Linked DNA regions of Homo sapiens. The protein of the gene in region 2 interacts with the protein of the main gene of each other region in a pairwise test. Each region holds a gene or a part of one and is shown on either strand. Other genes may lie near its edges.

The links.
Region 1: the proteins of PRUNE2 (region 2) and BDNF interact in binary tests that used the Homo sapiens proteins (3 or more experiments, as listed by UniProt).

Annotation. Positions count from the first base shown.
Region 1 is NC_000011.10:27,658,811-27,662,463, forward strand, and holds part of BDNF (neurotrophic factor BDNF precursor form isoform a preproprotein), read right to left. Parts: intron 1,463-3,653; exon of another isoform or gene 1,346-1,462; intron 849-1,345; exon of another isoform or gene 1-848. UniProt on the Homo sapiens protein: Important signaling molecule that activates signaling cascades downstream of NTRK2. During development, promotes the survival and differentiation of selected neuronal populations of the peripheral and central nervous systems.
Region 2 is NC_000009.12:76,710,559-76,714,211, forward strand, and holds part of PRUNE2 (protein prune homolog 2), read right to left. Parts: intron 3,164-3,653; coding exon 3,005-3,163; intron 801-3,004; coding exon 1-800. UniProt on the Homo sapiens protein: May play an important role in regulating differentiation, survival and aggressiveness of the tumor cells.

The sequences.
Region 1 (3,653 bases), on a different chromosome or scaffold from region 2:
CATATAAACCTGAGATTAGATGGCTTCTAAGCAAGTGCAAAAATTGTGGCTTCAAGTTCTCCTTCTTCCCACTTTAGCAGCTTTGTAAGTTTAATTTTTAATGATCTCTGCTCATGCTGTCACGAGAAACACAAAATCATAAATGTTACTAAGCAACAACTGCAAGTGTAATTAATAGTAATTTTTTTCAAGTTAGCAACATGGTCCTTTGCAGGAATGTGTGACAGGAACAGCAGTGGCCTGAGGGGTCTGATGGGCCTTTCTAGCTATGTGATGTCTAGGCATGAATAGCACAATAAAACAGCAGTTGGGGAACTATAAGGAGCCTTTAAATTGACTTTTTTTTTCCTCTTCCCACAGAGATACTCTATTATAGCAAAGAAGAAAGATAATTTCATTGAGCCATCCTGTTTTACAGGTAAGGAAACCAAAGGCCATAGAAGACTTGCCTTATGTCATGAAGAAAGTTTATGTTAGAACTCAGGGCTCCCAATTCCACTGTTCTTTATTCTACACCTGGGTGGTCACAACTGAAAATGTTTTGCTTATTTCTAAACAGAAATCATTTTTTGACATGTTCATTTTAATGATGTGTCTATGCCTGGGGCTAATGTCATGAAAACAATGTGTCTGGTAAGGAGAAAACTGAAAAAGTCAGCATTAAAAAGACATTTAAGTCCATTTCAAATGCCTCCCATATGCAGACTCCACTTTATCTCCTCCAGTTCTCTAAAACCCTTCACTCCTTGGCTTTTTCTGGCTAATACACACATCTAGCTAAGAAAGCTCAACTTTTCTTTTTACTAGAGATGTTCTCTCTGTGTGTGTGTGTGTGTGTGCGCGCGCGCGTGTGCGCGCGCTCTGAGTTTATCCTACTTTTAAAAAGCTGAGTGGTGTTTTACACATTTTGGAATAGGCAGCTAGTGCTTCTTTTTCTGCTTTTGAAGTTTCCTGGGAAGTCCCTTAAAAGCATACCACAAAATTAATCTCTTCCTGTTTGCCAGAGGGTTGCTCTACTCTAAATTTGGCTCTACATCTACAAGCATGCTCTAGGAAGCCAATTAAAATGGATGAACAAGCAAAATGAAAACATACCTATGGACCAACCCAAGGTTACCGTCAGGTGGTGAAGGACTTCAGAATCACTTACCTGAAGCATTGTGTTTCTCAGCAGCAAAGAGTAGCATCCCCAGCCCTGACCCTAATTTTATTCCTACTTCTCAGTTCTGAGGCATGGACTTACAAAAAGACACATACATGCAATGGCCATCATGATATCCAAATAAGTAGGAAAAGGAACTGTGTTTCTGCCCATGAAGTTTTACTGAATTCAAAGGCAACCTACCTCCAGTCAATAGGTCAGAATGCAGAAATGGCTGAAAACTCTGGTATTGAAAAGCAAATGTTCTCCACTTTTGTAAGAAATAACATTTTCAACCACTAAGAGACTTTATTACCATCCCTAAACACACAAAAAAATTTCTTTTAGATTTACTCTCACTTTGCACGAATAGCAAACATGCTTAGAACTGCTTAGATTGCACAATGTTCTCAGATTAGGAAGGGAAAATTGGTTTGAATAAAATACAGATGTCTATTCCGCTAACAACTAAATCTTTGTGAATGTTCTGAGTCCTGTACCATCAAAGAAATAGATCGTCCATGGGGGTTTCTATTTCTGGTAGATTGTACTTACACACTGAATGAAAAAGCTTTCTCCTAATATTCCCAGTCCAAATAAAAACAACCCAAGGGGCACCTCTTATTTAGGTCAATAAAAGTTTGCAAATGTGGAATACTTTAGCCATCTACATCACACTGGTAGAGACTTTCTGTGATCAGCTATTTTTTAATACCATATTTAATCAAATCTAAGATACCATCATTGTGAAACTCGACATTTTATATATCACTAAGAAAGCAAAAATGCAGCCTGGGTGACCAGAGTGAAACTCCATCTCAAAAAAAAAAAAAAAAGAATTAATGAACTATAGTTTAATACATATTTACTAAGTGCCCACACTAACTACTTAAAAATGGTCCAAAATACTGAGGCATCTTAAGCTGTTGGAAAATTGTTTTGTTTTCACCACTACAGTAATGAGTCTTTGAATGATACCATTTTCTATACTTGGCTTCTAGTTTACTCTGCCTTTCACTGATCTTATCTTTTTATTAATAACTTTATGAGAAAAATAATTAATGCTTTATATATTGTTCTCTCAGTTCCATGAGCAAATATTTCAGAGGGAAAATTGGCATCTGAGTAAATATTACTTGGCTTTCATTCTGAAGCCCAAACATGGGTATTCCTCAAGCTGAGCATCTGCATAGAATTAGGAATTAACACAATGGTGACAAAGTCCAACCCCACATTGCAAGCCCTGCTCTCTGAGTGGCACTTCTGCAATTCTAACTAACTGTCTACTCACTTGTAAGGCCTTGAAGTTAAGTGGGTGCAACACCAAACTCAATACTTTTTGTTGGAACAGTGGTATCTCCTACCTTTTCTAACAATGGTTCCCTGATATTTTGGGCAACCCAGGCATAGGATAGAAATCCTGGAATCAAGTTTGACAATATATTTCCTGCATAGCCTTCCAATCCAGTCAGTAAAGATGTCCTGTTAATTTTTCCTTTAAAATATTTGTCCTGGCCATCCCTTTTTATCCATCCCACTGCCACCATCTTGGCTCAGCCCTCACCACCTCATTTTGTGACCACAACGTCCCGATGCTGTATCAGACACTCTTTCTGCTCCATTCAACTCTGATGACCACTTCCTGGGTAACCACCCTAATACTATTCTCTTACACAAAAACTGGCAATGGCATTTTTGTTCTATCTGCTCAAATCTAATGTCTTCTCTCTGATACTCAACTCTCTCCAACATCTGCCCTCACCCTTCTTAGCTAACTTTCTCAAACTACTCAATGCTTCATCACTTCTGCTCCGATCAGGACAGAGTCCTTGGAGTGCCGTACACATTACTGCCTCCTGACTTGTTCCATTCCTCTGACAAACTCCTCTCTCCCTCTCACTTGCTGCCAAAATCTTGCTTATCCTTCATGATCCAGTTCAAGCATCAAATCATGCATGCCCCTTTCTCTAATTACTCCAGCATACACTGCCTTCCTTCCCTAAAATTCCACATTACATCTTACGTAGTACTTGATTCCCTTCTCACTTGTTTTGTTTTGTTTTTTTCCCAAGACAGAGTCTTGCTCTGTCGCCCAGGCTGGAGTGCAATGGTGCAATCTCGGCTCACTGCAATCTCCACCTCCTGGGTTCAAGCAATTCTCCTGCCTCAGCAGGAGGTAGCTGGGATTACAGGCGCCCACCACCATGCCCGGCTAATTTTTGTATTTTTAGTAGAGACAGGGTTTCACCATGTTGGCCGAGCTGGCCTACTCACTTGTTAATTGTTAACCGTATTTGCTCATTCTAGTCAGTCTTCAGCTGAAAGGTAAGTTCTTTGAGGGAATGGATCATGTCTGAGCCCCCATAATGCTTAACAGAGAAAAATGTAATAGCAGTACTCAGTAAAAACTTACTGATAGGTTTATTAAACTAAGAGAAAAGACAGTTTGGATATAATTTTCGTAAGAAGCCTTTTCATTTGGAAAGATCAGTGAACCCATTGAAATTCTCAG
Region 2 (3,653 bases):
TGGACAAACTCCTCATCATGTTCCACAAGGCTATCTTTGCCAGCCCCTGACAAAAGTGAACTGGATGAATAATTAGACATGTTGGTTCCCATGCCATCAAGTCCTTCAGGCCCAGCGGGGAGCTGTCCTTCTGACAGGTCACTGTTGGGGAAGAAGTCATCTGCTGGGGAGTAGTCTGCAGAATGAGAAGATTGCTGGGACTGCCCAGAAGCCATGGGTGCTGGGTCAAAATTGAAGAGGTCGAAGTGCTCACCGTGTTCTCCAGACCATGCATGTTCCTCCGCCACCGCCCCTTCAGGGATGGGGCTGTAGGAGTCAAGCCCTGGGAGAAGGGTGTGGTGAGGCCCAGCACCTTCTCCCACGGGGCTGTCGTCACTGAGGAAAACAGAGCTCTCCTTGGATGAGCGGCTGCTCCTAATGGTAGCCAGTCCGCTGTCTGGGCTAACAAGGTCTACATTGGCATCCACCTGAGCCTGGTTAGAATCATTGAGATCTGGAGGGTTCTCTATGAAATTCACAGAGCTGGGTTGTGGCTCTATGTCAGAACCATACAATTCCATAATCCCAGAAGACCCCTGGGAGAGGGGGGCACTGCCTGCCACGGCTTCTGTTGAGGATGTCCGGCTATTGGAGACCATCTCTGGACACCTCCTGTTGATGACTTCCTTGACAACGAGAACCACCTGATCACAAGTCACTGAAGGGTCCTCTTGTTGGTACACCAGGATCTCATCACAGCCACAGTCAAAGGGCTCCAGTTCTAGGCAAGGGTTCTGACACTCTTCCAGCTCACAGCAAATCTGTCGGAAGGCACAGGAATTTGTGTCAGCACTCAAGCACTGTTGCACTTTGCAATTGCACTTTGCAATTTATCTCGCTTAATTTTTAAATATAAAATTAATCTGTGTTCATCTGTCTGAAAAAGAAGATCTCAAACTTAGAAAGTTCTGATTACTGTACCACCAACCCTTTCTCCAATTCTATCCAACTGTCTCTCTGTTTAATTCAAAATCCAGGTGCTCGATTTTGAAGGCTCCTGAACGTTTGGGTAAAGGAGTTTAAACCACCTATTCTTTCCTAACTGTAATATAATACCATCTTCCAATAGCAATGTAATTCGAGTTGCAAAAAAGCAGAGATAATGCATGTTGCTGACAACTATAGGAAAAGTGTTGGAATAAGGGGACAATATCAGGAGACAGGCTGTTGTTTGGGAGGGGGCAGCCAGGGCTGCTTGAACCTCTGATAGCTTCAGAATGCAAAAGAGAGAGTAGGAAAGACAAAGATGCTCCCGCAGTCTGATCTTTCCGAACAGCACTCAGGACCCCTCAGTCCCTTTCACCCCAGGTAACGGAGGCATGGAGCCCAAAACAGGCAAAGCTAACCTGGGAGGCAAGGGGACACTGACGGATGGTCAGTGTGAGGCCAGAACTGGGTTACGGCTTTCTGATTTTTAAGGAATGTCAGGAGTATTTTGTTGTGCTGGGCCTTTGAAATGGCCCCACGGGATTAGTAGAGATAAAATTAATAATAATAATAACAACCACCACTACCACCATGGAGCTCACATAGATACTACTACTACTACTAATTAACATTTATTGAGTGCTTTCATGTGCCAGGCATGGTTCTAAGGGTTTTATGATCATTATCTCTTTTAATCACCACAGTAATTCCACAAGGTAGGAACTCTTTTTATTCCTATTTTACCCATGAAGAAATGAAGATACAGGAAGATTAAATAACTTGTCCAGCAACACACAGCTAACAAGTGCTGGAGCCTGAGTTCTGTACCCAGGCAACCTAGCTGCAAAGGCTGACTCGGCCAGTGGTGTGACCACACAGGCCAAGAGGAACTCGCTAGGCCAGAGCCAGGACTCTGTTGCTTAAGATTCCAGCGATCCACCTCTGGCTATTGCTAGGATGGGGAGGGTGGGTGGGGAGAAGAGAGGAGGACTGGGGTCAACTCAAGAGCTTTTAACTCCTTCATCTGCTCTTCTACTTTTGTCTGTTTCCAATGAACCAATTTTCACATTGGTTTGAAAAAGGGGTCTACTGCTAAAAGTGATGTGAAAGCCGCCATGTTGTAGGCTTCCAAGGCCTAAATCCCGTCCCTGGGAAGCCAGTGACCAAAGATGAAATTTAGCTTTGAAACCAAATGCAGAGGAAAGTGATGAAAAAACCACAGGCTGGTGATGCAGGTCAGAGGAGGAGATGCTCTTTCACATTCGGACTTGAGAGAGCCCGAGAGTACCCATAGGCATGGGTCAAGAGAGCTACAGTGGAGCTCTTGGGGGACAGAAAGGAGGATGTAGAAAAGAAAGGGGCAGAGACTGTGCCTCTAGCCACCCATGGATACATAAGGCATTGAATCCATTAGTGAAGAGAAATAAGTAATGAAGCATCTGGGGCCCCGTGTGGCTCCTATTATAATGAATCATGTATGTTCTCATATTAGTTATTAAGTACACCTGGCTTGGTATATCCGATGGCCTATTTTGATTAATTTATCTAATTCTTTTTTTTTTTTATTTCCTAGGCCTTGGGTTAAAAGACTCAGCTATCAACCTGGAGGATAACTGATTACCTAGTCAGAGTTCTGGTACCTGGAGACAAACTAACTTTGATTAAAGCATCAGATCACCAGGTCTTAAACACTGGGCACCAAACCGGTCCTGGGACAGGGGCTAAACCTTGTCAGTTATGATCAGGGAGCAGTCCTAGAAGAAAATAGCACCCAAAGGAGAACTTGCTCTTTTGGGAATGAGAAAGAGCTAATGTTTTGCACTATGGATTCAGTCAAGAAGAGAAATGCTTTTGGGGCTTTCTTAAAAGGCCAAATGTAAAAAGTACCCCCATCATTTCCTAAAACTCAAACCTCTAGGACTCTACCTCTTGGGCTAATTGCTCATGAGCCACCAATCTGTTCTGTCTTGCACTGTGTGTTCTGAGAGCCAGCAGGTTAGGACAGAGGGAACATGACGGGGTCAGAGGAGGGGCTCACCTGACTGCACAGCTCCATGTTTTCTGAGTACACAGCAATCTGTCGTCTCGGCTGCTGCTCCTCTGACAGATAGCTGGAGAACAGGATGAGGACATCAAAACCAAACTTGTCTGTAAATGCTTTCAAGTCACTGGTAATATTGCTGTGAAATAGACAATTCTGAAACGACAACAGGAAATTTGATATTAATGTCAAACTGCCCAGCTGCGGGGAGTTGTTCCACAAATTTGTCCAGTCTTATGATGTATTTAGGAGAGATATTTATTATTTAAGGCAAGTGAAATACAGTTTGCTTTGAGAAGGAGTGGAAACTTTCATGCTATGGCTTAAAATACACTTTGCTTGTTTGTTTTCCCAAACCATGTAAGAAAGGAGTTTTTGCCATTATTAATAATAGTTTAGACAAAGAACAGATATCCTAAACATTTTTTTCTAAAATATTTATTCAGATGCTTAATTTGCAAATCCTATTTTCCCTCTTGTCGCTTATAGGATCTATATACGAATGTCTGCTATTGTTACAATTTATCACAATAAGAATAGGAGGAAGTTATTTCTTCCTGTATTTTTTTTCTAATGATTATTATTAACTCCAAGGAGAAATTCCTACGAATCAACATAGCTGAGTTTACTGGGTGATCTTTATTCC